Homo sapiens: one gene and its partner. The protein of the gene in region 2 interacts with the protein of the main gene of each other region in a pairwise test. Each region holds a gene or a part of one and is shown on either strand. Other genes may lie near its edges.

Region 1 (15,073 bases), on a different chromosome or scaffold from region 2:
AGGGTTGTGTCCGCTGTAGGGCATGTGGATGGTTCCTGGGTGTCTCACAGATGTGTTTTCTACAGTCGGCATCAACACCTTTGACTATCTGGGCAGCATCCTGAGTTACGTTGTCATCGCAATCCCCATTTTCAGCGGGGTCTATGGAGACCTGAGTCCCGCAGAGCTTAGCACCCTGGTCAGCAAGGTGAGACTCCCTCTTGGTCACCCCACATGCTGTCCCTCTCTGTCCTTGGCCCAGTGTCTGTGGGCTCGAGTCGAGACCTGCTTGACCTCTTCCCATCCTGTCCAGAATGCCTTTGTGTGCATCTACCTCATCAGCTGCTTCACCCAGCTCATCGACCTGTCCACGACGCTCTCAGATGTGGCTGGCTACACGCACAGGTGAGGCCGTGTCCCACCCCTCTGGCTCCTGAGCAAAGTGTGTGCTGCTGGCAGAAGTGGCTGAGTGAAAAAAGGAACAGAGACATACCATGTACTCGTGGGTGTGAGATAGGAAAAGGAGTTCACCTTCACCTGGCTCCCAGACCCTGCCTCAGATTTTCTTTTCTTGTTCAGAATTGGGCAGCTTCGGGAGACGCTTCTGGACATGTCCCTGAAGTCACAGGACTGCGAGATCCTGGGCGAGAGCGAGTGGGGCTTGGACACGTGAGTAGCGGGCTGGCAGAGCAGTAGTTGAGGCTGCAGGCTGTGGCATCACCTGGCTTGGGTTACCCTGGAGTCCTGCCCTTTCCCAGCTGGGCAGCAGAGTTGTAAGGAGTAAATGGAAATGGAATGCCAGGCACATGTAAGTTCACAGTCGATGTTGCTGTTCCGGCATCTGTTGTGTTAATTTACACCATTCCCCGGCCAGTGGAAGCAAAGTACACACACCTTCTGCCTGAGATAACAGGAATCTGCAGTGTCCTCCCCTTCCTGTGCTTCCTCCTCCCGCTGATTCCTCTCCCTGCCCCTTTCCTTGGGGCATGTCTGTCTTTGTTCCCCCACCTCACTCAGCCCCAGAGATGTCTGTATCCGTGTGTCTGCGTGGATCTGTAATATTTCTGTGCATTCAGGATTTGCTTGATCTCCACACTTTCCTTGGGCAGATTACCTAACTGTTCTGTTTCTTCATGTCTGAAAAGGAGGTCATAATGAACTTCCTTCACTTGTTGTAGGGATTAGATATCATCATCCATGGAAAGTGCTTGGACAGTGGCCACATCATAAGCTTTCAAAAATCAGTCTGAATTCCAGGGCCTACACTCAACTTGCTTTTCTTAGGAGCTAATACCTTAACTGTTGCTTCTGTTCCAAATGAAAGCTTCATGCAACCATGAGTGCAGAGGCTGGGCATGAAGGAGGGTCTGTAGGAAACTGGAATTGCTGTTCTGTGGGGAGCCAGGCATCCATGCAGAGGCAGAAACTCCAGAACCATTTAGCTTTAACCACTCCCATTCTTGTTATTAGTACTCTGGTCACACTGTGATGCCATGAAGACCCACCAGCATTAGAATTTGTTGAATACCGCTCTGCAACCTGGGCAGTTACTTAGCCACCTGATTCTTAGTGTCCTCATCTGTGATGATATTTGAGACTCATGGGCATTAGACTGAGTAAGATCAGTCCCATAAGGGGCTTTGTCCAGCCAGGCAGAGAGTAGAAGTTCCACCCCTACCCCTGTATTAATGTGCTCAGGCTGCCATGACAGAAAACCACAAACCGGCTGGCTTAAACAATAGAAATTAATTTCCTCACAATTCTGGATGCTTATGGTCCACGATCAAGTTGTCAGCAGGGTTGGTTTCTTAGGCCACTCCTTGGCTTGTAGATGGCCACCTTGTTGCTGTGTCCTCACGTGGCCTTTCCTTTATATGTGCGTGCCCCTGCCACCTCTATCTTAAGAGGACACCAGTCATATTGGATTAGGGTCCCACCCCAACAACTTCATGTTAACATCATCTCTTTAAAGACCCTGCCTCCAGCTGGGCACGGAAGCTCACGTCTATAATCCCACCACTTTGGGAGGCTGAGGTGGGCAGATCACCTGAGGTCACAAGTTCGAGACCAGACTGGCCAACATAGTGAAACCCTGTCTCTACTAAAAATATGGGCACGGTGGTGGGCACCTGTAATCCAGCTACTCAGGAGGCTGGGACAGGAAAATCGCTTGAACCCAGGAGGCGGAGGTTGCAGTGAGCTGAGATAGCTCCACTGCACTCAAGCCTGGGTGACAGCAAGACTTTCTCTCAAAAAAAAAAAAAAAAAAAAAGACCCTGCCTCCGAATGCAGTTACATTCTGAGTCACTAGGGGGCTGGACTTCAGCATGTGATTTTGGGAGGATGCAAGTCAGCCCATAATAATCCACAGGTGGTGGCTCCCGGGAGCAGTGCCTCCCCCACAGCAATACTGACCCTGCCCATCTTCCTCACGCCCCCTCTCTTCTCTGACACAGACCCCCAGGGTGGCCAGCGGCAGAGCCAGCAGACACAGCATTTCTCCTTGAGCGGGTCTCCATCTCTGCCCCCTCCTCTGACAAACCCCTAATCAAGGATCTGAGCCTAAAGATCTCCGAGGGACAGAGCCTGCTCATCACAGGCAACACGGGCACTGGCAAGACCTCCTTGCTCCGGGTTCTGGGTGGCCTCTGGACGAGTACACGGGGTGAGAGCCAGGCCCTCCCTGCCTCTGACCCAGCCTGGGCCCTAGGGGTGGGGTGAAGGCGGGGACGGTGTGGTAGAATCCATTCTTTTCTGTTGGGGAACAAGGAAGAGAGGAGACAGGCAGTTGCCTCTTCTGGGAGATCTCACAATGGAGGTTTCTGTGGGCTCTGCAGGCTCAGTGCAGATGCTGACGGACTTTGGGCCCCATGGGGTGCTATTCCTGCCACAAAAGCCATTCTTCACTGACGGGACCCTTCGGGAGCAGGTCAGTCTAGTTCAGGGGGCTCACTCCTCCCTCCTCAACCCCGCCCACCCACAGCTGGGACCTCTGGCACTGTGACAAGTCTCAGGTCCTAGAGTCAGGGCAAAAGGTGAGGTGGTGAAGTGGCCCGGGCCTGGGAACTGCTGGCTCTAAGAACCTTCTATTCACATCCATGGATTGGGCCCACTACTCATAGCAGCTCCTGAGGCAGGTAAATGGGGCAAGGACTCACGCCAAATACCACACGCGTATGTCAAACACCCAAGGTCGGATTCTGGGGCCCCTGCCCTCAGGAGGCTGTCAGACTGTTCCCCCTAAACACACTTCTGAAGGTTGTAGGGACCTTGCCCTGCTGTCTGCCGGCCAGAGCCTCTCCCATCTGACCCAGGCCAGGCGTTCCCACCTCTCCTCCTTGGGAGGTTCCAGTGGGTTCTGGAGGGAGGGTGGGCTGTGTGCAGCTCCGTCTTTTGCTCGCCCTCCTAGGTTGGTGTGGTTTTTTTCTTTTCTCAGGTGATATATCCCCTGAAGGAGGTCTACCCCGACTCAGGTGAGCTGGTCCTCCTTAGGTCATGTCCTCTCCTTCTGTCATGGTTGTCCCTGCTCTACCTGACTGTGGCCTCATCTGTGCCCTTGGGGAGAGGCTCCAGCCAGGCCGCTGATTCAAGGAAGAGGGGCTCCTCTCCTCTTCCTTTGACTGTTTTGGGGTCTGTACCCAGATCTCACCTCATTCTTTCTGTCCTTAAGGAGAGATGCCCACTGGGACAAGGAAAGTGATGCCTTCCTTCACCCACCCCTTCCCTTATGAAGATCTGCAACCTGTGGTTTCAAAGCCTTCGCCCAGCATTCTGAGGCCCCCACCCCTGCATCATCCATGATGTGCCCTGTCTATTCTTTTTTTTTTTTTTTTTTTTTTTTTTTGAGATGGAGTTTCACTCTGTCACCCAGACTGGAGTGCAGTGGTGTGATCTCGGCTCACTGCAACCTCCACCTCCCGGGTTCAAGCAATTCCCCTGCCTCAGCCTCTTCCGTAGCTGGGGCTACAGGTGCACGCCACCTTGCCTGCCTAATTTTTGTATATTTAGTAGAGACAGCGTTTCACCATGTTGGCCAGGGTGGTCTCCATCTCCTGACCTTGTGATCCACCTGCCTCGGCCTCCCAAAGTGTTGGGATTACAGGCGTGAGCCACTGTGCACAGCCTTGCCCTGTCTATTTTGACCAGCCAGGAGGCTCTGGCTTTTTGCAGAAGGCTTCTTTGTTGTGCAGGTTCTGCCGATGATGAGAGGATCTTGAGGTTCTTGGAATTGGCAGGCCTGGTAAGTGGGGAGAGGGACCCTCAGGACCCGAGCCCACCTGGGAGCACCAGCTACAGGTAGGCAGGTGCTGGCCCTGCTATGCTTGGGCCCAGGACTGGAAGTCTGAACCTGGGGTGGAGAATGGGAGTATCAGTTGACAGTGTGTGCTGTTGGCCAGGTTTAGGCACGAAGGGGGTAGTGCTCTCATTGGAGAATTTTAAAACAAGAATAGGATTGATGAAGGCGGTTTGCTTTTTACTGTCATCATGCTCCAGCAAGTCTAAACAGTGTCATTGGTAGAATATTCCTCTCTGCCTGGGGCAGACTGTCCCACAGTCCCCCGCCTTGGTATGCCACTGGGGCATATATTTGTCTTAGAGGTGTGTGTGTATGCTGGGGAGTGAGGGAGGTTCCCCATGATGGCAGGTAGCAGGGCTGGCCATTTCATGGACATCCTGCCCTCTGGGTCTGTTACAGTCCAACTTGGTGGCAAGGACAGAGGGCCTGGACCAGCAGGTGGACTGGAACTGGTAAGAAAAGAGCTTGGGTGCTCCAGAGATAGCCCCACCATAAAGACAGTGGGTTTCAGGGTCCCTGTCAAGGAATGGAACGGCTCCTGACCCCAAAGTCCAGATGTTTGGCTGGTCAGTCGGGTGCAAGTTTATGCCCTTGGGAACAGAGTTTTGCCTCACTCTGTGAGGGCTGTAGGCCTATGGTCGAAAGGGAAGGGGCTTCTGTCTCCTGGGGCTCACCTCTGTGCAGAGAAACCTCTTCCTACCCAGACCATTCTAGGTAAAAGCCAAGCTATATTCTTCCTCCTCTAGCAGTCCTCTCTCCTACCTTTCCTCAGGTATGATGTTCTGTCCCCGGGGGAGATGCAACGGCTCTCCTTTGCCCGACTCTTCTACCTGCAGCCGAAGTACGCAGGTGAGGTCTCGCCTTGTGGCTGCACATGCCATGCGCTGTCTGCACTCACGGGTGTAGCAGCATGTGTTCACAGGCACCCAGGCACACCTGTGAATGGCTGGGCTTCTCCGCATTCCCTGCTGGAGAGGACAGCAGGCCCTGCCCGTGTAAACAGTGCCTGGCATCGTCAGAGTTAACACTGAATATGCGGTACTGCCAGCTCATAAGCTTGCTTTTCTTCTGTTTTCTTTTTTCTTTTCTTTTTTTTTTTTTTTTTTTGAGACAGTCTCACTCTGTCACCCAGGCTGGGGTACAGGGGCACAGTCATGGCTCAGTGCAGCCTGGAACTCCCAGGCTTAAGTGATCCTCCCACCTCAGCCTCCTGAGTAGCTGGGACTACAAGCATGTGCCACCACACCCTGCTAATTTTTTTATTTTTATTTTTGTAGAGACAGGGTCATGCTATGTTGCCCAGGCTGGTCTGGAGTTCCTGGACTCAGGCCATCCTCCCACGTTGGCCTCCCAAAGTGCTGGGATTACAGGCATGAACCACTATGCCTAGCTCATAAGCTTTTTGCCTGGCAGCAGCTGGAGCCAGGAGCCAACATTGAAGGGTTATAATTTTATGCTCCTCTGGCTCCACCATCAAATGAATGGGCACCCATCCTCCTCTCCCACCAAGCTGTGCCTGGCAGGTGGATGGGTGTGGACTTTTCCAAAGACTGACATTCTTGCGGGGGACTGGGATTCCCTGGATTGAGTGGTCCCAGGGAGTGGCTGGTGCTTATCTATAGAAGCTGAGAGATTTCATGCAGCTGCTCACAGGCTATTCCCTTGGAGAGTCTGGCCCTCTGCTCCTCTGGCCCATCCTTCTCCCTGAGGCAGGGCTTCTGGAAGCCAGAGCAGCTTTCAGCCTCCCCTGGGTCCCAGCTGGGGTTGAGTATGGGTGGGAGGAGAAGCAGCGGCGGCAGAGGGCAGGGCTTTGATCTCTTCCTCTGTGCTCTGCCCCCTCAGTGCTTGATGAAGCCACCAGTGCCCTGACAGAGGAAGTGGAGAGCGAGCTCTATCGCATCGGCCAGCAGCTGGGGATGACGTTCATCAGTGTGGGACATCGGCAGAGCCTTGAGAAGGTACCCGTGCTCACAAGGATGGCCTGAGGAGGAGAAAGAACCCAAAGGCTCAGCCTGGCCAGGGCCAGAGGCCCCTCAAAACGGGGAGTAGCAGTAGCAGAGAGAACCGAGTGGCCTCCTCTGCCAGCGGCCAGGGCAGCCTGATCTCCATGTGGTGGTGGTCTCTTGTAGTTTCATTCCTTGGTTCTGAAACTCTGTGGAGGAGGAAGATGGGAGCTGATGAGAATCAAAGTGGAATGAAGCTCTGGCTTTTGGAAGGAGAGCCACACTGTGGCGGGTCGGCGGCCCTCAGGAGAGACCAGGAGGACTGACAGCGAAGATCGAGCTCAGGTTCGCCACATAGATCCCGTGCAGGAGCCACATGGGTCCTGTGCAGGACCCCTAGCAGTGGTGGGCTGAGCCCAGGTCTAGGTTTCTGTGGGGGACACTGAATCTCCCAGTGTTCAGTCTCCCAGGACTCTGCTGCCTCAGCCAGAGCCTCCATATGCTTGAAGTGCTGATTACCTACAAATGATTTCAGATCATGTTTGCTAAAGAGAAATCTGGAAGTGTGAGATCTGTAAGAAATGAAAGAAATGACTCTTGGAGTCAAGAGATCTGGAAATCTTTTAATCAGTTAAATTGTGCAGCAATAGATTTTTAACTTTAACTGACCATTTAAGTTTTTTAATAAGTTTTTTACAAAGAAAAGTTAAACATTAAAAAGAATTACAGCTTTCTGTCTTCTCTATCATGGAATGATCTTTTTTATTGAATCTCCAGATTTGTATTTGACAGCTTGGTGGGAAGGGAAGCACACTCTGCTGTTCTGGAATCTTATGCCCAGGGTTTTTCACTTCTCCCCACATCTCCCTTTCCACTTGCCAGTGTTGTGTAGTTAGAACCTGAACCACTAACTTCCAGGGGCCTTTGGTCTGCCCTACCTTAACCCAAATGAAAGTAAATCCCTTTCCCCTTAGCCAAAATAAGGTTGGGTTTTCTAAAAAAATAGTCTATATTAGGGAACAACAACAGCAAATTAGACAAAACCCAGAAAGCACAAAGCATGAGGTGGAGTTACTGTGCCCAAAGTCCTCACTCAGACCAGTGCCCCTCCAGTTCAGTTGTCTATGTATTACCTTCCTTACCTTCATAATTTTTGCCAGGCTTCTGTACTTCTAGTACTTGAGTTACTTAATATTTTTAAAAACAAACCTTTTAAGTTTAAATGGATTTTTAAGTGAAATTTTACACTTAACATAGATGGAAAGTAACTAAAAATAAATACAAGAAAAACCATCGGTGTTATTAACTTACGGCTAGATGCTGTTGCCTGCATAGACTCTGGGCCTGAGGCTTGTTCATTTTGTAAAAAAGAGAGGTGAGGAGTTAGACGGACTGGCACTCAACTGAGATTTTTCTCCTTAATAAAATCAGAAAGATGGAGTGAGAATTGTATTTTCTCACTGTAAAATATAAGATTATTTAACGCTTTCTTGGTACCACTTAAAAATGACTTACTCTATCCTTACTGACTTCTTCAGCTCCTAAGCCTTTTTCACAGACGCTGCTGCCGCTGCCAAGTTATTTTGTTTATTTTTATTTTTTATTATTTATTTTTGAGACAGTGTCTCACACCTCACTCTGTAGCCCAGGCTGTAATCTAGTGGCACAATCACAGCTTATTGCAGCCTTGACTTCCCGGGCTCAAGTGATCCTCCCACCACAGCCTCTCAAGTAGCTGGGACCACAGGCAGGAGCTCCTATGCCCAGCATCCAGATTATTTTGGAGACCAATTCATTCCTATCTCAGGGTCTTTGCATTTGCTGCTTCCTCTGCCTCTAACTGGTTTCCAGTGCTGTTCTGTTCTTAACACTTAGCCTTCTCCCTCACAGAAACTGCCCAAGAAAGCTACTCCTAGGGGCACACTCTGCACCTCTATCCCTCCCTCATGTCAGAGATGGAGACTACTCTTAGATGAGTCGACATAAACATGCGTGGAGGAAAATCAGGTCTTGTGTCCTTCATAGTACATTATGGACAAAATGTTTGTTTTAAATGCATCGTACATCAGCCAGGCAAATAGTTTCCCAAACTTAAGACCCATTTTGGCCACCCAGGAATCTACAGTGACCCATGTGGATGAGACATAAAGATAGCCATAGGTTTCCCATCACTCTTCTGGAGGGTTCTGGGCTGCAGGACAGGCAGAAAAGCCATCTTTTGTCATCTCTATCCACGTTGGCTTAACATGTCAATGTGTGTCTAGTAAAGGCAGCTCAAACCCAACATGTCCCAAACTGAACAAGAAGAGCTTTCCCTGGCCGGGCATAGTGGCTCATGCCTGTAATCCCAGCACTTTGGGAGGCTGAGGTGGGTGGATTGCAAGGTCAGGAGATCGAAACCATCCTGGCCAACATGGTGAAACCCCGTCTCTACTAAAAATAAAAAAATTAGCTGGGTGTGGTGGCACATGCCTGTAATCCCAGCTACTCGGGAGGCTGAGGCTGGAGAATCGCTTGAACCCAGGAGGCGGGGGTTGCAGTGAGCCGAGATCGTGCCACTGCACTCCAGCCTGGTGCCAAAGCAAGACTCTGTCTCAAAAAAAAAGAAAGCTTTCCCACTCACGCCTGTAATCCCAGCACTTTGGGAGGCCGAGGTGGGCAGATCACAAGGTCAGGAGTTCAGGACCAGCCTGGCCAATATGGTAAAACCCCATCTCTACTAAAAATACAAAAGTTAGCCGGGTGTGGTGGCAGGCGCCTGTAGTCCCAGCTACTCGGGAGGCTGAGGCAGGAGAATCATTTGAACCCAGGAGGCGGAGGTTGCAGTGAGCAGAGATTGTGCCACGGCACTCCAGCCTGGGCGACAGAGCGAGACTCCGTCTCAAAAAAAAGCTTTCCCCAGAGCCTTTTCTAGCATCTCCTCTGATGGCAAGTGGCGTTACTGTCCATCTAGCACATCACCAGGTGCTGTTGCTCTGACCCCATAAGTAAATCTTCCAGCCATTCACTTCTCTCACCTGCTTGAATCCTAGCTAGAAGCAGCTCAGAGGGAGCCAGAAAAATGAGAAAAACCACAAGGAGAATCGAGGAACAGGAGCCTGGACGGCAGCTGGACTCTGAAAAAAAGAAGTGTCAGGAGGCAGCCTGAGCCTGCCACGTAGGGGAATGTTAGTAACCAGTGGCACGGCATTCTGTGGGCTATGGGGCAGTTCTTGAAAGTGAGGGCACTTTGGTTTGCCGCACACCAGCCATGTCTGAGGCACCATTCTCAGTTCCAGGGTTACAGTGGGGAGCAAGATGGACCTGGCACCTCTGCTGGAGCTCGCGTGTTCCATGTGGTACATGGTGGGTCTGAAGGCAGAAAGCAGCAGGAAAACACTGGGCTCAACTACAAGTGGAAAACATTTACAAAATCGTATGTCTGTTGTGATACTGTAGCAGGTCTTCTTGAGCTGCCTCTAGAACTCGAGCATTCTAGCATTACCCAAAACATCAAGTCAAATACAAAACCATGGAAGACTATTACAGAATGTTACCAGATGGTTCGTGAGTGTGTAGGGAGTCCTATTTCCTGCTGCAAAGCAAACCATCTTTTTTTTTTTTTTTGAGACGGAGTTCACTCTTGTTGTCCAAACTGGAGTGCAATGGCGCAATCTCGGCTCACTGCAACCTCTGCCTCCCAGGTTCAAGCAATTCTCCCGCCTCAGCCTCCTTAGTAGCTGGGATTACAGGCATGTGCCACCATGCCCAGCTAATTTTTTTTTTTTTTTTGAGACGGAGTTGCTCTGTCCCACAGGCTGTAGTGCACTGGCGCAATCTCAGCTCACTGCCAGCTCTGCCTCCCGGGTTCACGCCATTCTTCTGCCTCAGCCTCCCAAGTAGCTGGGACTACAGGCGTCCACCACCACACCTGGCTAATTTTCTGTATTTTTAGTAGAGATGGGGTTTCACCGTGTTAGCCAGGATGGTCTCGATCTCCTGACCTCATGATTTGCCTGCCTCAGCCTCCCAAAGTGCTGGAATTACAGGCGTGAGCCACCACGCTTGGCCGTATTTTTTTTTTTAGTAGAGGCAGGGTTTCACCATGTTGGCCAGGCTGGGCTCGAACTCCTGAACTCAGGCAATCCACCTGCCTCAGCCTCCCAAAGTGCTGGGATTACAGGTGTGAGCCACTGCGCCTGGCCTGCAAACCATCTTTAAAATCCCCATTATCTTTCCCTTGGTTTCACTTCTTACACAGCAGCCTGTGTCTTCTCTCCTTCTCCTGTATCTCCCCTGCAATCCCTTTAACCCCTCCGAAAGGATTGGGTACTGGAGGGGACAACTTGGATTCCGGGACAGATTATCTCAGGAAAGACCAGGGAGGATGGAAGTGATCTTAGCTTTTGAACAAAAGTTCATGAATGCAACATCTGTGGGGCAGGCACTGCAAACAGAAGTCCTCATAAACAGCTGCCACACCTCCCCTGCATCCAGCATTTTGGAGACATTTTTTCATTTATGTATATGTGTATGTATGAGTGATGGGGTCTTTCTCTGTCGTCAGGCTGGAGTGTAGTAGCACAATCATAGCTCACTGCAGCCTCGACCTCCTGGGCTGAAGCAATTCTCCTGCCTCAGCCTCCTAAGTAGCTGGAACTATAGGTGTGCGCTAGCACGCCCAGCTAAATTTTTTTTTTTTTTTCTTTTGTGGAGATGGGGTTTCACCATGTTGCCCAAGCTGGTCTTGAACTCCTGGGCTCAAGCAGTCCTCTTGCCTCGGCCTCCCAAAGTGCTGGGATTACAGGCGTGAGCCACTGTGCCCGGCCATTTTCTTTTTTCTTTGTAGAGACGGGGCTCTCACCATGTTGCCCAAGCTGGTCTTGAACTCCTGGGCTCAAGCCGTCCTTTTGCCTCAGCCTCCCAAAGTGCTGGGATTACATGCGTGAACCACTGTGCCCTGCCCATTTTTTTCATTTAATTGTCACCACAGACCTAGCAGCAAGGAAGGCTGCAGGGCTTGGGCTATCACTGATGGGGCTGTCAGAGGTAGGGTCCTTGAGTCCTTGCAAAACAAAATGCCTGGGGGTTCTGCTAGGTGTGGAAGAAAGACAGGGACTGAGGAAGGTGAGCTGGTAACCTGGCCACACGGACCAGGCCAGTTGAGAAGGAAGCAGAGTGGGAAAGCCTCTGGGCAGAGGAAGGAGGGAGGGAGATGCTTCTCATGGGCAGAGGATAAGGAGCCCCCAAGAGACTCGGGCTGGCCACTCTGGTCATTTTGAGGGTAACAGAGACTGGAAGGTCACCAATAAGCCTCTGTTCCTGCCATAGGCCAGAGAGAGCTGTGCTGTGTGTTCTGTGTCCACAACAGAGCTGAGCTTGTCGGTCCAGGAAGCCGGAGAAACACAATGCCAGTTAGTCTCTGTAAATGCTGCCTTTCTGGAAGCACTGTCCTGTTGGTGCCAGGAGCTCCTGGCTGATGCTGTACTTGGATTTTGGGACAATGAATGTTCCTGAGCTAATCCCTGGGACAGAGAGGACCCTGTGGAGGCACATGTAATTGTTGGGACAGCCTGCCCTTGGAGAGCAAGTCAGCTGAGAGGGGGGCCAGTACCCTTGTGGGAGGCTGCAGCAATGCCCTCCTAGGGGGTGGGGAGAAGCTTAGCTAAACCCTGGCCCTGGGCATCAAGCAGGAGGACATGGGCTAGGGAACATTGACCTTGAGCCTCCAAGCAGGGTGAGGCTGGCCAGGGTGGGCCAGTGGATTTGTTCATCTGTAGGTAGGAAAGAGTCTTGAAGGTCGGAAGCCTCAGGGAAGGCTCAAGTTCAGGGCAGGACAGAGGGGTTCATTTGTTCTTAGCTCCTGGCATTCAAGGAAATCTCTCAAGGCACTAGCTGAACAGAGACCACACATGACAAGGATTACTGACTTTGCAAAAATAGTTTGGTAAAGTCACCAAACAAAGAGGCAACTACAGCCTTCAGCAATTAAAAACAGTAAACTGGGGAAGGAGGAGAAACTGATTTCTAGGGTTGCCATATTATAATATTCAAATGTCTAGGTTTCTTTTTTTTTTTTTTTTTTTTGAGACGGAGTCTTGCTCTGTCACCCAGGCTGGAGTGCAGTGGCGTGATCTCGGCTCAGTGCAACCTCTGCCTTCCAGATTCAAGCAATTCTCCTGCCTCAGCCTCCCGGGTAGCTGGGATTACAAGCGCGTGCCACCACGCCCAGCTAATTTTTGTATTTTTAATAGAGACGGGGTTTCACCATGTTGCCCAGGCTGGTCTTGAACCCCTGACCCCAGGTGATCTGCCCACCTCGGCCTCCCAAAGTGCTGGGATTACAGGCATGAGCCACCACGCCTGGCCTTCAAATGTCTAGTTTTCAATAACAAGTAGAACCTCACAAATTATACAAAGAAATAAGAAATGATGGTCCATTCAAGAGGAAAAAAGTTGACAGAACCTGTTTCTAAGGAAGCCTAGACATTTAAATGTGCTCAAAGAGCTCATGGAAAGCACGGGCAAAGAACTAAAGGAAAACAGAAAAATGAGGTACAAAATGAATATCAAGAAAGAGACAGAAATTATAAAAAGGAATTCAGGCCAGACACAGTGGCTCACGTTTGAAGTCATAGCATTTTGGGAGGCCAAGGTGGGTGGATCACCTGAGGTCAGTAGTTCAAGATCAGCCTGGCCAACATGGCAAAACCCCGTCTCTACTAAAAATACAAAAAGTTAGCTGGGTGTGGTGGTGGGCTCCTGTAATCCCAGCTACTCGGGAGGCTGAGGAGGGAGAATTGCTTGAATCTGGAAGGCAGAGGTTGCACTGAGCCAAGATCGCACCACTGCACTCCAGCCTGGGCAAAACTCCATCTAAAAAAAAAAACAAACAAACAAAAGGAATAAAGGAATCCAGTAGAGCTGGACCTGAAAAGTATAGCAACTGAAATAAAAAATTCACTAGAGGGGTTCTACAGCCGATGAGAACAAGCGGAAAAAAAAGAACCAGCGAACCTGAAGACAGGATGATTGAAAGTCTCCAGTCTAAGGAGCAGAATGAAAGAAAGTAAGCAGAATCTAAGTGATTGTGAGACACCGTCAAGTGGAACAACATCCTGAGACTGTGGGACTCTTGGAAGAAGAGAAGAGGAAGGGGAAGGAAGAATATTTGAGGAAGTAACAGCCAGAACTTCTCGAGAGTGAAAGGTAGAAAATATTTGCAAATCAGAAATCTGATAAGAGTCTAGTATCCCAAATATTTAAAGAACTCTTACAACTCAACAATAAAAAGACAATCCAATTTAAAAATGGACATTTCTCCAAAGAAGATATATAAATGGCCAACAAGCATACAAAAAGATGATCAACATCATTAGTCATGAGGGAAATGCAAATAAAAACCACAGTGAGATATTTCATACCCACTAGGGTGGCTATAATTTAAAAAACAGAAAATAACAAGTGCTGATGAGGAAATAGAAAATTGGATCTGGGCATGGTGGCCCACATCTGTAATCCCAGCACTTTGGGAGGCCAAGACGGGTGGGTCACCTGAGTTCAGGAGTTCAAGACCAGTCTGGCCAACATGGTGAAACCCTGTCTCTACTAAAAATACAAAAATTAGCACAGAGTGGTGGCACACACCTGTAGTCCCAGCTACCCGGGAGACTGAGGCATGAGAATCGCTTGAACCTGGGAGGCAGAGGTTGCAGTGAGCCAATATCGCACCACTGCACTCCAGCCTGGGCAACATAGCAAGACTCCGTCTCAAAAAAAAAAAAATTGGAACCTTTGTACATTACTGGCAGAAATGTAAAATGGTGCAGCCACTATGGAAAACATTCTGGTAGTTCCTCAAAAAGTAAAATAACTACCATATGACCTGGCAGTTCCATTCAGGCATATCTCAAAAGAACCAAGGATGGGTACCCCAACCAATACTTTTATAGGAGTGTTCATAACAGCACTATTCACAATAACCAGAAAGTGGAAACAGCTCAAAAATGTCCATCAACAGATGAACTGGCACTGGCTCTATCACTGGATTTGGTGCTGAAGCCGCTTCTAGCTCTGCAGCTGGCACTCATTCTGGCTTTAGCTTGGGGATGAGTGCTGTGGTGGGTGCTGGAGCTAGCTCCTGCTTTGTAGCTGGTGCTGGCACTGGCTCTACTGCTAGTGCTAGACTAGGTGTCAGAACTGTCTAGCTCTGGAGCTGGATCTAGGGCTGGTGCTAGAGCAGGAGCAGGCTCTAGCTTCAAAGCTGCCATTGGAGCTGACTCTAGCTCTAGAGCTGACACCAAAGCTGAATATAGCTCTGTGGCTGGCACTACAACTGGCTTAAGCTCTGGAACAGGTGATGGAGCTAGTTCTAGAGCTAGCACTGGCTTTAGCTCTGGAGGTGGTGCCAAAGCTGGCACTTCACCTGGCCTAGGCTCTGGAGCTGGTGCTAGAGCTGGCTCTAGCTTCTCATCTGGTGCTGGAGCTAGTGATGGAGCTGGCTCTAGCTGTGCTGCTGGTGCTGGAGCTGGCACTAGCTCTGGACCTAGAACTTCCTTTAGTGCCAGCGTTGGTGCTGAACCTGCTTCTGGCTCTGGAGCTGGCACTAAATCTGGCTATAGCTCACGAGTGGATGCCAGAGTTGGTGCTGGAGTAGGTGCAGAGCTGTCTGTAGCTCTAGAGCTGGAGCTAGTGCTGGTACTAATGTTGACACTGGCATAGGAGCCGGAGCAGGCTCTAGCTTTGGAGCTGACTCCAGCTTTAGAGCTGACTCTAGCTCTGGAGATAGCACTGGATCTGGAGCTGGCTCCTGAAGTTGAATGTAGCTCTGGAGTTGGCACAACAACTGGTTCTAGCTCTGGAGCTGGTGCTAGAA
Region 2 (15,073 bases):
ATAAGAGACAGGAGCAAAATCAAGAATGCGAAAAAGTAGTTAAGAACAAAAAACCAGGAGGAAAAGATATGCTCGGAAACATGAGACTGATCCAGAACGTGTGCAGCGCGGGGAGCAAAATACCTGAATTCTAATCATCACTAATAAATGCTTCCTGAGAGCAGAAAAATATTTTCTTTTTTGAAAAAATAAACTTGAAGATTACATATAGCAATGATGAGTGGGTCTTGCTAGTCTAGAGTTCTCTGGAATCAATTGATTTGGTCCCAGTCAGGAAAAAATATTTGGGAAGACCTAATACCTAGATCCAAGTACAGCTGGTAAGGGATTAGAGTAGCCATGATCCTTAGTAAATAAGCCTTTATGTCACTTAATTACTACATCAGACTCAGAACTTTCTCCCTTGTCAGTTTCACATTCACTCTCAGGATAGGGACACGTGACTCATTTCATACAGTTCCCACTTTCAGCAACAACTAATATGGATAAGGAAACAAAACTTTTAGAGCTTCCTTCTACCTATTCCTCAGCACGACTAATTGAATATACAACCTAAAAACAAGTGACAAACAATGGCTGGCTGTTTCAGACCCTGTTGCCAGAAGATATATATGACAAACAGAGGTGGTATATGGTAACTTCCAGGCTTCTCAAAGGTGCTAGGATCCCTATCCTGTGTGGTTCTTCCTACTGGAGGACCCTACTCCATCCTACAATGCTCTGACTCGTCTTTTCCCAGATGGTGATGGATTACCCCTTCCTGCTAGACTATGACTTCTCGAGGCCAAAGCCAGGCTCCTCTTGTTCGGCAGTCTGTGTGTAACCATCAGAACTCTAGAGAAGGTGCAGAGTGGCTGCCGCACAGTTAGTATCAACACACAGTTGCTGAATGAAGGAACAAGTGAATAGACAAAAAACTCAATCCCTCTGTGTCCAGTAGCACAAAGCTTTGTGGGTTATGGGCACAGCAGCTTGGCATGAGGGTCAAGGACATGAACTCCAGAGCCAGACTCCTTGGATCCGAATCCCCAGCTCTATCATTTACCAGCAGTAGGACTGGGCAAGTTCTTTAACCTCACAACGTCTCACCTTCCTCATGTGCAAAAGGGGGATAATAATGGGTCTACTTCACAGGACTGTGTGGAAGGATAAATTCCTTCATACGTTATGTGCTGACAATGGTGTATTAACACATAGAAAGCACCATATGTTCGCTATATCCTTATTTGTACAGTCTGTGGCCAAATCAGCCTGGTCCATATTGTGTCCAAACCCATGGCCTTGCCATTATGAGTCTTGGTATGAAGCAAACTACGTAAGATACCAAATGACTAAAAACATCTCTAAATCTAAGTAGATGGGGAAGATTTTTACTTCAGAAGTCACGGGCAGGAAAAGTGTAATCAAGTTTTGATTGCACGGAAATCTACTCCTAGGCTGGAGATGCTCTCTACAGCAGATCTCCACCCAGATTGCTTCCACATCTCATGTGGGCCTCAGAAAGCCACTCCTACTAATGTAAGAGATGTGGTTTAGAATTCTCTAAAACACACCTAGACATGTATTCCAAGGCCTAGACGACTTAAAAGCAGTCACTAGGGCATCCTCAGCATCAAACTAGGTCCCTGCATCAGCTCACAGGCTGCAGTTTGACTCCACTGTAGTGGAGGCTGCAGGATCAACCAAAAGCCTTGTGTACTTAGGCTGAAATCAGAACGCATTTTTTCTTTTTCTACAGCTGACATGTGTAAAAGCTGGGATCCCAGAAACAGCACCCTAAATGAGGGTAAGTTGTGGACGGTTTCTTAAGGAGACTATTCACAAAGATGTGGCCAGCATGTAGAAACACCACAAGTGATAGTGCAGACCCTCAGAACTGTTAGGCTCCCCAACAAAGACACAAGGAGAGGACGCAATTACTGGAATCCAGAAAAGGAAAGTCCTATAGGAGGGCCACCTTGAAACGAGCTGTGACCCAGGGTCAAGGCTGTAGCAGCCATTCTGCAGTGACCCCGGCGGGGAGGGAGCCAGGGGAGTGAATACCTCCCCTCACACTCTTACTCCCCTCCCATTCCTGAGCTGTGCTCCCCATTGAAAGGAGACCAGCAGGCAAGGAAGCCTGTTGATACCATCCATACAGCTCAGCTTCCCCATGCAGAGAGCAGGATGGACAGCAGGTCTACAAGTGTAAACTGAAGGGGGAAAGGAAAACACCCGGCCAAGAGGTATTTGTGTAAAGATGTATAAGTCTATGAACAAAAGTTTTCTTCCAGGGATAGGAGGGTAGCATAAAGTCAATGTTCACTATAATCTAAGAGGCAATGGAAAACCAGGAGAAAACCCAAGGAACCCGAGGACTAACACTGTTCGTTGCAAAGTGTGTGGACAAGTCACTTCCTCTCTGCATCACAGTTTCTTCACTGGCCTGGTCACCACTAAAAATTCCTTCCAGCTCTAACTCCCTCCGATTTCTTAGACTGAGCTTTATTTATATGTGGAAGCTTTCTGATGAGGGTTTTCATGTATGCCAGAACCATGGTAACTTTCTGTTCACTGCAGATCCTTCTCTGCAGTACCACTTGGGACACAGCTCTGATGTTTTCTCCTAGCTGACAGTGCCCCTGTAGCAGCCTTGAAAAAAACACGTCTCTTACCTACTGCACTCCCGTTCCTTGACATCACAAAGGAGAGAAGCACATCACGCAGGCCATCTCCATTCACATCAGCCAATTCCAATGGAGACAGGTCCCCACCTGTTATACACATAAAAAACCAAAAAGGTCCTGAGCAAGTTACCACAAACCAGTTCTCTGTTGCCAGTAGCTCTATAAACACCAGGCAGACTCCAGTTCCTCGACTAGGTATAGTAGACACACCTCTCCCTACTCCCCCTGCTAAGTGCATGGAAAAGCCCTGGACACTGTACATAAAACAAACATAAGACAACTCTAAAAGGCAGAGAGAAGGAAGCAGACCAGCTAGGGACTGCAAGACCCAAGGAATGACAAGGTGATGAGTCCCCTGGGTTTTCTTTTGGCCTCATAATACCCAGATAGGGTGCTGGAAAAGCCAGCAACCCAGAAACACCACAGATACAGACAAAAAAAGCCCCAGAAAAGGCTGCCTTCCCTAGCCAAAAGCCCAGGAAAGGTGCAGTCCAGCAAGACAGGAAAGTTGTAGATAATAACTGCTCTACTCCAACCAAACAGATAAAATTATCAGCCCAGCTCCACCCACTCATATAGCAAAGGCTGAATGTGGAGCCTGGCTCCCACCCTCTCCTGGATGTAACAAGGTACCCCACCACCACCACCACCATCAGGGTCATGTCAGAGAAAGCCAGGTGGGGGCAAGGACTGTCATCCTCATCTAGCAGGACCAAAGGAGTTCCACCCCAACTAGCATCAACAAGGCAGCCCTCTCCCTCCTCTCCACGGGGGTGGTGTCAGCAGAGGCCTAGTGAGGAGTCTGGACTTCCATCCCCCCACCACCCAAAAGTGTGGACTCAGAGGATGCCCACCAAATTTGGAGAGAATTCACACATTGCTAGTGGAAATGTAAATCGGTACAACCATGTTGGAAAATAATTTAACATAAACTGCTAATAATGAACATGCACACACCCTATGGTATGATCCAGCAATTTTACTCCTAGGTTTATGCCTTAGATAAATTCTTATACACTGCAATAGGAAACATATACAAAAATGTTCTTAGCAGCATCATTTATTTATTTAAAAAAAAAAAGACTGGAAGCATTACTTAAAGGTTCATCAACAGAAAAATGGATAAATCATGAGATATTCATACCATGGAAAAATCAGACAGTAGTGAAAATGAATAAACTCCAGGTATAATGCATCAATATAGATGAATCTCAATAAATTGTTTTCAAAAAATTAAGTGGCACAAAGAAGCAGGTCACAGGCTGGGTGCAGTGGCTCACAACTATAATCCCAGCACTTTGGGAGGCCGAGGTGGGTGGATCACCTGAGGTCAGGAGTTCAAGATCAGCCTGGCCAAAATGGCAAAACCCCGTCTCTACTGAAAATACAAAAATTAGCCAGGCATGGTGGCGAGCTCCTGCAATCCCAGCTACACGGGAGGCTAAGGCACAAAAATCACCTGAACGCGGGAGGTGAAGCCTGCAGTAAGCCGAGATCATGCCACTGCACCCCAGCCTGGGTGACAGAGCAAGACTCTGTCGCAAAAAAAAAAAAAAAAAGCAGTTCACAGAAGACTGCATGATTAAATTCATGTAAAATTTAAAAACCAGCAAAAGTAATGAATATACAGTTTAGGGGTACATATTGACATGGTAAAACTTTACAGAAAAAGGAATAATCAACACAAAATTCAGGATAGCAGAGGCCTTTGCTGGGCAGAGGAGGATGTGGTCAGGAGGGACACACAAGAGATTGTGAAGGTCTCAATGATGTTCTATTTCTAAAGCTGGGTGGTAGACACACCAACAATTTGTTACCTTTAAACTGTATATAAATATATGTAAATGAAACTTGCCTTCAGAGAAACTAAAGATGAGAACACAGAACTCATCAGAAGCTAATTCAACTGGGATCAGAGAAGTGGCAGAGATAAACATTTCTAGATCAAGAGGATGCCAGGGGTCTGAGGATAGCTTAATCCAGTTCACAAGAGACAGGACTACTCAACACAGGTGAGATGTAAGTCCCATTCCAGAGCAAGAGGTTTTAAAGAAGCCTACTCCAAAAAGGAGACAGAATAGCTGGAATTACTCAGACAGCACCGCCCTAACCATGAGGAGCAAGAAAGAAAAGATAGCAACTATCTTTTACAGGAAATGAAATTATTTTATAATTTAAATTAGATCAGACCTCTATCATCAAAGAATGTCAAAGGGTTCTGCAAGAGCTCTATCCCTGGTGCAACCAGGCCTTGAACCTTGCTTTTCTCTGTAAATAGCCCTTCCTACAGCTTTGCATTCCCCTGATACAGTGCTGGCTCCACAGCAGGAATCCAGCAAACCAGCCCTGTCCTCTCTGGATCTAATAAAGACCAATGCCAACAGACACAACAGAGCAATGATTCCCAGGTTTTTGGAGGTGTTTGTTTTCTTTCAAATCTTAATCTCCTTGCCACCTCCACACAGTGGGGACGGCAGGGTGGGGAATGCCGCATGACACATATTAAGTTTTAAGATTTGGAGGAAAATTTAAATGTAATCAGACATAGCATGAAGTTTCACAGGATTAGGGCTGAAGATTCTGCAGCTCACCTCCCTGGGAGCCCAAGTGGCGGCTCCAGGTGCTGTGCAGATCTCTGGGAGGACAGGGGATCAGGAAAGCACACAGGAGCACCAGGATCATCGAGATCCCCAAAGTCAGCAGGAAGACAGACGTGCGCACATATGACACCAGGGAGGAGGCCGCCTTCTGTTCCAGGCCCCCAAGGGGTTCTGAGGGGTAGCCCTCCGTGGTGACTTCTGAAAGATGTGGCTTTGCAGCCTCTGCAACCTCAGCATCTGAGTCGGGTTCTGGCGCTTCTCCCAAAGGACTCTTCCCATTTTTGACCCCTCCATTCTTCTGCAGGTTAAGCACCAGATCGTCTTCGCTCTCATCACTGTCAGCCTGGGTAAGTGGATCATACTCCCCTAGGTCTGGGCTCTTCTTCCCTGAAAATACAGAAAAACAGAGAGTCAAGGGGAACTGGGGAGAAGACACCCTCACCAAATATATGGCAACTGTAAATACCCAGAAGAACACGGAAAACTAAAACAAAAAAATCCAGGTTTACATCAAGTTTGAACCTTGGTGGCTATCTGTAAAACAGAAGCCAGTGAAGCAGGGGTTAGGAATGGAAGGAAAAACAAAAGCACAGTGCTCCAGGATCACTGCCTGCATGAGTTTAAGACAATGGAAAAGGAGGCAGAAGTTAGCAAATTTAAAATGCCTTTAGTTTAAAAAGAAAGCTCTCTTAATGTGTTTGAATCTCACTCAAGAAAAAGATCATGGCTCCACATCAACTCTCCATGTGCCTAATGTGCATATTGCCTCAGATCTTCTTAGATCTGTGACATCCTAATCTTTCCTGGTAAACTTTTAGAACAATTCTTCTCCATACGCTGCTTCTCACAGCCCAATATCTGTGGCTTCCCAACTGTTTCTATGGAAACAACTTAGAAAGTTGAACACTGAATGTTCATCTGAAGATGTATTGAAATCTCACTTCTAAGAACCATCCTGTGATTTGAATGCCCTTTCAGTCTATCTTTTAGTAAACAGTGTTTACCCCAAAAACTGCTCTTCTGAGCAAGTATTCTGGGAGGGGTGGTGATCTAGCCAGTACACAGAGGTAGGGGACTTGTCTTGAAGGTGCTTTGCATGGCAAGCACTTTGTTTTTACTTAGCTTGCAGTGTTGATTTGGGATAGCTGAGAGAGAAATTACAGAAGAGCCTAGGTACACCTCCTCCCAAGCCACCCACCCCTTGGCCTCACTGCCAATGACTGAATGATTTTATGCCTTTATTTCATGTTACCACCAAGTAACAACCAAGAAAATGTTTCTTTTGGGGAGACTTTATGCAGTAATCTATCACTAATGTAAACTCTATCATTAAATCTTTTGTTCAGAAGAAATATAAAAAAGACCACAAAACCCAGCTAATTAAAAAGGGGAAAAGAATAATTATTAATGCTAGTGTCTACCTCTGGGTCACTATGGCCTTGGTGATGTCATTTCATACATTATATCTCAGTTTGTTCAATTAATAAAATGAAAGAATAAAACACTATATGGAGACCAGATTGTTGCGGGAAGGCAAGGACCCCAAATGGAGGGACCAGCTGGAACCACGGCAGAAGAACATAAATTGTGAAGATTTCATGGACACTTATCAGTTCCCAAAATTAATACTTTTATAATTTCTTATGCCTGTCTTTACTGCAATCTCTAACCACAAATTGTAAGATTTCATGGACATTTATCACTTCCCTATTAATACTCTTATAATTTCTTATGCCTGTCTTTACTTTAATCTCTTAATCCTGTTATCTTCATAAGCTGAGAATGTACGTCACCTCAGGACCACTATTGTACAAATTGATTGTAAAACGTGTGTTTGAACAATATGAAATCAGTGCACCTTGAAAAAGAACAGAATAACAGCGATTTTCAGGGAACAAGGGAAGATAACCATAAGGTCTGACTGCCTGCGGGGTCGGGTAGAATAGAGCCATATTTTTCTTCTTGCAGAGAGCCTATAAACGGATGTGCAAGTAGGGAAGATATCACTGAATTATTTTCCCAGCAAGGAATACCCTGGGGAAGGAATGCATTCCTGGGGGGAGGTCTACAAATGGTCGCTCTGGGAGTGTCTGTCTTATGTGGTTGAGATAAGGACTGAAATATGCCCTGGTCTCCTGCAGGTACCCTCAGGCTTACTAGGATTGGGAAATTCCAGCCTGGTAAATTTTGGTCAGACCGGTTCTCTGCTCTCCAACCCTGTTTTCTGTTAAGATGTTTATCAAGACAATACGTGCACAGCAGGACACAGACCCTCATCAGTAATTCTAACTTTGCCTTTGCCTTGTGATCTTTATTGCCCTTTGAAGCACGTGATCTTTGTGACCTACTCCCTGTTCCTACACCCCCTCCCCTTTTAAAATCCCTAATAAAAACTTGCTGGTTTTGTGGCTCAGGGGACATCACGGACCTACCGATATGTGATGTTACCCCCAGAGGCCCAGCTATAAAATTCCTCTCTTTGTACTCTTTCTCTTTATTTCTCAGACCGGCCAACACTTAAGGAAAATAGAAAGAACCTACGTTGAAATATTGGGGGCTGGTTCCCCCAATACCAGATGTTGGAAGTAAAACCTTTGATGTTTAAAGTTAGTATTTGGTACATTAAAAAAATCAATAAATTTTAGATTTTTTAAAATGAACATTCCACAGAATTATAACATTAAGTACTTTCAAAAAAAATCCAAAGAAAATACTGAATAATCTGTCATCCTAATAACTAGAAATTATTTCTATTTATTTTTATTTTCAAAACTATACATTTTGCCCAATAAATATTAGACTTGATTTTTAAGGGCACAAATTACAAGAAAATAAATCAATTATTAGAAACTTAATTCAAAATAGTACTTTCAGAATATGCCATGGGGTCAGTACAGGTTCCAGATAATCTCCTACAATTTGTATTTCTACTCCATGAACCAAATTATTTGGTTAATTAGGGCACACCATTCCCTAACCATCCCAGATAACTCTACACATAATAATTTGCATACAGAGCCATGGGTTGTTAGAATAATATTAACTCTAATGCTTTTTAAAGTGATTGTTTGTTCTTGTTTTGTTTTTTAGCTAAAATACACCTGACATGATAAACAAAATGTGATATGTACGTACCATGGAATATTATTCAGCTCTAAAAAGGAAGGAACTTCTGACACTTGCTACAAAATGGATGAACCTTGAGGACATTACGCTAAATGAAATGAGCCACACACAAAAAGGCAATACTGTGTAATTCCACTTATGTGAGTTATCTAGAGTAGTCACACTCACAGAAACAGAAAGTAGAATGGTTGTTGCCTAGGTCTGGAGGTAGAAGGAAAAGTTGTTACTGAGTAAGTATAGAGTTTCAGTTTTGCAAGATGAAAAAGTACTAGAGATTGGGTGCATATACAGTTAATACTGAACTGTATACTTAACATAGTTAAGATGGTAAATTTTATGGTGTATGTATTTTTTGACAATTTAAAATGTTTAAATATATATATATATATCTGAAAAACAGGAAAGCACACAGAGTTCTCAACTCTAGAGTTACTTGAGAAAGCACAGCAAGAGACCTTAAAGATCACATAATCTATCCCCACCCCTATCCCAAACTTACAACTAGCTACTTACAAAGACCTATCAACCAGTTACTTAGCAAACACCTGAATGTAACCTGTATTAGGGAATCCACTGGCCTCCAATCTAGAAACCAATTCTTTACACTGATTCAAGAATTTTTTTCTGGGAAGTTGCCAATTATCTGTCCTAGTTTTAATTTCTGGGATCCCTCTCTCACATGTAAGTCCTTCAAACACTCAAAGGTATCAATCATAAGAGACATATGATATGGTATTTAAGAGCTCAAGTCTTCACAATCAAACATCAAGCCAAATCCTGGCTATATCTCTTATGAACTATGTAATCTCAAATTTCTTAACTTTATTGAGCATCAATTTCCCTATTTATGAAATGGAATAATTATTCTTTTTAGCTCATATGATTGTGATGAGAATCAAATAAGATAATATATGTCTGCTTCTTAGTGCCTGGCTTATAGCCACACAATAAATTTTAGCTTCTATTATTATCATTACCATCACTGGTGCTAGTATTGTATCTCCCAGTGCCCTCCCCCACTCTTCTCAGCTCCAACTTAAACACCTCCACCTCTTTCAACCCATTACTTAAAGAAGCATTGTTTCAGGTGTCCTCAACATCCTGGTCATTCTCCTCTGGACACAATGTGATATGTCTGTGCTTTTTAAAATATGGTTCTTGGAACTAGATACAATCCCAGGTACAGTCTGACCAGAGAAAGGGAGGGCAGAGCTATTTCCTACCTACTCCAGATAGCAAACAACAATTCAATTTCTATAACGTAAGATCTTGAGAGCTTTCTTGGCATTCACATCACCTACTGATTCAATTAAAACTTCCAAGCATTTTGAACACATGCTTAAGCCACCCTATAATTGTGCAATTGGATTTTTAGCACCAAGTGAAAAATTTAGCATCGACATCAAATTCAATCTTGCTAGTCAGTCTCCACCTTGCAACAAACATATCAGGCTAAAAACAGCACCTTTGTCAAAGTGAAATCATTAATAAAACACTTCCCAGCAAAACAGTTTAAAGGAAATTCATTTTTATCATGCTATGTACTATCACAGGCAGGGAGGAAGAGAAGCATATGCTACAGGAATTTATAAAATCTGTAAGAAATTTATAAAAACAATTTGAAGCATTCTTTGAGAAAAAAGCTGCTGTCAGATTGGTCTGTTTAGCAAGATTACATGCTTCTAGTTAATGATGGCAAAAGTGGGCATTTCTGTCACACTGTCTTCCCTAAAACCAGGAAAACAAATACAGAAAAATAAAAATAGAACACAAAATAGGAAACAGCCACATTCCCAAACCACAATTTATGAACTAAATGCACTGAAACTTGTACTCAATTGAGAAAGCTCAGTAAGAGTAGGCAAATACATCTTGCAGATATATATTGCACATATATTGCAGATCTTCAGCAATGAGCAGAGTTCACAGAATTAATAATCATGACAACAATAAGATGATGACGATGATGACAACTGGAAGTGTATTGAGTGCCTACTGTCCCAGGCACTGATCCAAGCATTTTGCATGTGTTAATTCATTTAATCCTCACATCAATCTTATATGGTAGATATTATTATTATTATTATTATCCCCCATTTTATCAACAAGAAAAATAAAATTAAAGAGGTAAAATGACTAAGATCACACAACTAGCCAAAAGAAAAGCCAGGATTCAAACCCAGGCATCTGACTGCAGAGTCCATTTGTTGTTCTAACCAACAAGTTATACTACCTCCCTTGTTCCACAAATATAGCCAAACCAGTAATTGCTTGCTTGGAAAGACAAAGTCTGGGGTCACAGAAGCACCAATGAGCCCCATTCAACACCACAGAATCAAATCCAAGTAGGACCGAATGAGGAAAAGTACAAGCTGACATCTTCACAAAAAGCACACTGTCAGGACGGCAGGTTAGAAAAGTAACTGGGCATAATCACTCTGACTGGGCCCAGTCAGGATACAGAAGCCAAACAATAGTTCAAAGAGGACAAGTTTAACATAAAAAAAATTACTAAGCAATGACAGGAGAGTAAACATAAAGATGAGAAGAGAACTCTAAAAGGTCCCCTAGGACTGAGAGACAATATCCAAGGCAGGACAAACTTGATATTTAAAAGGGCTCAGACCCACTTTCACAAATCAGTCAACAAAGGTGAATTTGGAGTTCAGATGCAATAAATTGATAACTGGCAAAACAAAGTCAATGAAGGAAATGCCAAACCAGCAGCCTACAGTCCTGTGCAAAGCCTCCTCCTAGCCAGGATAGAGACATCCACACAGGAAGAGTGCTGGTGGGGAGCCAGCTGACTTAACAGGCCTGGATTACATTCTTGCTTCCAACGGCCCTAGATCACCCCTTTGGCAATAGCCAGGCTGTCAAACAACCGCCCCATTTAAATATAAGTAATAATCAGAAAGGAGCCATGTTTAGTACTCATTCCACAAGATACCACAAAGCTCTACAAATATTCAAGAAAGAAGTAACAACGAAACATAACAAACAATTAGCTGAAAAACAAATGCTGGACAAATCACACCACAAGATGGAAGAAATAATGAACATATACTTCCCCATGGAGTCTGAGAAATTTAGGAAAATCGTCTTCTCTGAAATAAGCACTCAGGAAAACAATGGAAAAAATAACAAACCAGTTTTAGAAAAGAAATCCTTATTGGAATCAGCTAAAGGAACAGATATTGCTGAAAACAGAGTCAGAGACATAAAAAGAATAGACTAGTGAAAATCAAGCAAAATGTAATGGAAATAACTACAGCTGGCAGTTCTGAACACTTATCCTACACTCTTCCAAGCCCTTTTAATGTCTTATCTCAGACCAGGGGTGCTGGCTCACGCCTGTAATCCCAGCACTTTGGGAGGCCAAGGCGAGCAGATCACTTGAGGTCAGGACTTCAAGACCAGCCCGGCCAACGTGGCGAGACCCCGTCTCTACTGAAAATACAAAAATTTGCCACGTGTGGTGGCAGGCGCCTGTAACCCCAGCTACTCAGGAGGCTGAGGCATTAAAATTGCTTGAACCTGGGAGGCGGAGGTTAGAGTGAGTCGAGACCATGCCACTGCACTCCAGCCTGGGCGACAGAACAAGACTTTGTCTCAAAAAAAAATTCTTATCTCAGTAAATCTTCATAACAACTATGTGAGGTAGACACATTACTGTCTTCACTTTCAAGATGAGGAAGCTGAGGCTTGGAAGTTTAAGTAATTAGCGGATGTGGTTTGGCTCTGTGTCCCCACCCAAATCTCAACTTGAATTGTACTTCCATAATTCCCATGTGTTGTGGGAGGGACCCAGTGGGAGATAACTGAATCATGGGGGCAGTTTCTTCCGTACTGTTCTCATGGTAGTGAATAAGTCTCACGAGATCTGATGGTTTTACAAGGGGAACCCTGTTTCGCTTGGTTCTCATTCTCTCTTGCCGCCACCATGTAAGATGTGCCTTTTACCTTCCACCATGATTGTGAGGCCTCCCTAGGCACACAGAACTGTAAGACCATTAAACCTCTTTCTTTTATAAATTGCCTCGTCTCAAGTATGTCTTTATCAGCAGTGTGAAAACAGACTAATACATTGGCCCACAGATAAACAGCAAGTGATAGGTAACAATTCAAAACCAGTCTGGCTTCAAAGTCTGTACGGGCTACATATGATCCCGTGGAAAAAAAATCAAGGCTTTAAAAAGACTAGAAACAACGTGATAGATACTGACAACAAAGGTGAGCCAATATATGCATGACCGAAGAGGATAACAGAAAAGAGGATAACAGAAAAGAGGATAACAGAAAACAGAAAAGAACCAAAAGCAGTATTTTAAAGAGTTGCCAAAAAAAACTTCCTACAATAAAGACCTAAAACTGCAGAATAATGAGTACACAGAGTCCCAAGAAAAACTGATTCAGAAGAATCAATACTGAAATATATCCTAGTAAAGGCACAGGACTTCAAGGACAAAGAAGGAATCCTATAAGCAGCCAGGCCAAAGGAAAAAGAATCAAGTCACTAATGACAGGAACAAAAATCAGGCAAAGATTTCTCCATAGTAACATACACTATTAAAAGATAGCGGAGCAATATCTAAAAAGTCCTCAGAGAAAGAACATGCAATTTGATGTCCAAGCATTCTGACCCAGCCATGACATCACCGAAATATAAAGACAAGCACACAAGCGCTCTGAGTTATCATATTCCTATGCTTTCTTTACATCACAGAAGACTAGGGGCCAGTTCTTGGCCAGCCTTTTGAGAGGAATAAATACTTTTATACTAATTTTTTTTTCAGATACTGCAAAAACAAACCTCCGCTTAAGGATTACAGACTGCAAGTTTTGATTAGAGAAGTCTTTAATAATATTTTTTCTATCTATTTACAGAAAGACAATAAGAGAGCGTGAAGTAAAAGACGTCCACCAACTTGCCTTAAAAGAAGTCCACCAACTTGCCTTAAAAGAAGTCCACCAACTTGCCTTAAGTCCTACTCAGGCTGAGGAGCCAGGCGTCAAATCCAGCTTCCAAGCTTAGGGCACTTAGCACTCACTCGCTTCCTTGCTACTTTCAGCCACCACCCAAATTTTTAATGAATGAAAGGTTTTCAAAGAATAAGGGAGAGGGCACTGATTTCATAACAAATCATTATAAATGCGCTTTCCACAGCTATTGCTTTTCCTCTTAGGAAGACTGAAGATGCTGCTTAAATATAATAGGATTTCCAAAATGGTAGAGAGGAAAACACAAATAGGAAAGTGATGCAACTATACCATACCCAAACGTTTTCAGGAAATATACTAAAACATACACTATTCTATAACATATACTATACTATAGTATACACTATACTGTGCATATACTATACAATACACTCTACTGCAACTAAAGGTAAATAATTCATATCATGGGTTAGTTTACCCAAGGGCATATAAAGACTAAGTTACACAAACAAAATAAATCATAAAAAATCATTTTGCTCTGATATTCCCTCCAGTGTTTGACCTTCAAACTTTAAAATGGCCTAAGAAAAAAAATATATATATACTTAGGAGATAAGCTGCCCTACAGGCTTTATGAATGTCATATTGGCCTTCTGCTACTAATTAACCTCATTTTATGCATGTGAGCCAAACATCTTTCCTTCTTGAGCTTAGCGAAACTGCTCTTTCATAACAAGACTGCTGAGATCTGTCAATAGCTCACTATTACATCAAGCCTTCCTTCAGGTATCACATTCATAAATGAGCACACTGCTGATGACAACAGCTAACACTTACTGACTAATTAACATATGTCAGAGGTTACTAGACCTCCTAAGTACATCCATCTCCTTTACTATTTCAGATAACCCTAGGAGGTAAATATGTAGTAGAATGTGTGGCATAGAGTGAATGTTCCATAATAATGTTATTGTTACAGATGAGGAAACTAAAGCTTAAAGAGATTAAGTAACTAATTAGGTAAAGACTGGATTTGAACCCGAGCCTGTCTCATGCTCTCAGCCACCACTCCAACCTGACTTCCTCACACATGAAAACAGTGGGGATGTTGGGGCCAGACGCAGTGGCTCATGCCTGTAATCCCAGCACTTTGGGAGGCCAAGGCAGGCGATCACCTGAGGTCGGGAGTTCCAGACCAGCCTGACCAACATGGAGAAACCCTGTCTCTACTAAAAATACAAAATTAGCTGGGCATTGTGGTGCATGCCTGTAATCCCAGCTACTCGGGAGGTTGAGGCAGGAGAATTGCTTGAACCCAGGAGGCGGAGGTTGCGGTGAGCCGAGATCACACAATTGCACTCCAGCCTGGGCAAGAAGAGCAAAACTCCGTCTCAAAAAAACAAACAAACAAACAAAAAAACAAACAAAGAAAACAGTGGGGATGTTAACTACAGGAACATAACACAGTAGCCCAAACAGGACAGCAGTCTCAGGACCCCAATTACAGGGGAGCCAAAAAGAGCTATATAAAAACAACTTGTACCTAATGCAAAAACTAAAAATAGTATTTTGGGTGGAGGGAAGAAGAAAGGGCAAGAAGGAGACAAGGAAAAACGCAAGTGAACATTTTCTCCCATCCAAGTACTAACCAGGCCCGACCCTGCTTAGCTTCCGAGATCAGACGAGATCGGGCGCGTTCAGGGTGGTATGGCCGTAGACGCAAGTGAACATTTTCTTAAA

What was found.
Region 1: the proteins of FAM234B (region 2) and ABCD4 interact in binary tests that used the Homo sapiens proteins (3 or more experiments, as listed by UniProt).

The regions. Positions count from the first base shown.
Region 1 is NC_000014.9:74,277,862-74,292,934, reverse strand, and holds the end of ABCD4 (lysosomal cobalamin transporter ABCD4), read left to right. Parts: intron 1-65; coding exon 66-187; intron 188-292; coding exon 293-384; intron 385-558; coding exon 559-648; intron 649-2,435; coding exon 2,436-2,644; intron 2,645-2,816; coding exon 2,817-2,908; intron 2,909-3,415; coding exon 3,416-3,452; intron 3,453-3,649; coding exon of another isoform or gene 3,650-3,780; exon of another isoform or gene 3,781-3,823; intron 3,824-4,169; coding exon 4,170-4,219; coding exon of another isoform or gene 4,220-4,275; intron 4,276-4,675; coding exon 4,676-4,728; exon of another isoform or gene 4,729-4,731; intron 4,732-5,048; coding exon 5,049-5,125; intron 5,126-6,118; coding exon 6,119-6,234; coding exon of another isoform or gene 6,235-6,261; exon of another isoform or gene 6,262-6,405; coding exon 6,406-6,474; 3' UTR 6,475-7,666; downstream 7,667-15,073. UniProt on the Homo sapiens protein: Lysosomal membrane protein that transports cobalamin (Vitamin B12) from the lysosomal lumen to the cytosol in an ATP-dependent manner. Targeted by LMBRD1 lysosomal chaperone from the endoplasmic reticulum to the lysosomal membrane.
Region 2 is NC_000012.12:13,046,131-13,061,203, reverse strand, and holds part of FAM234B (protein FAM234B), read right to left. Parts: intron 5,654-15,073; coding exon 5,258-5,653; intron 2,754-5,257; coding exon 2,655-2,753; intron 1-2,654.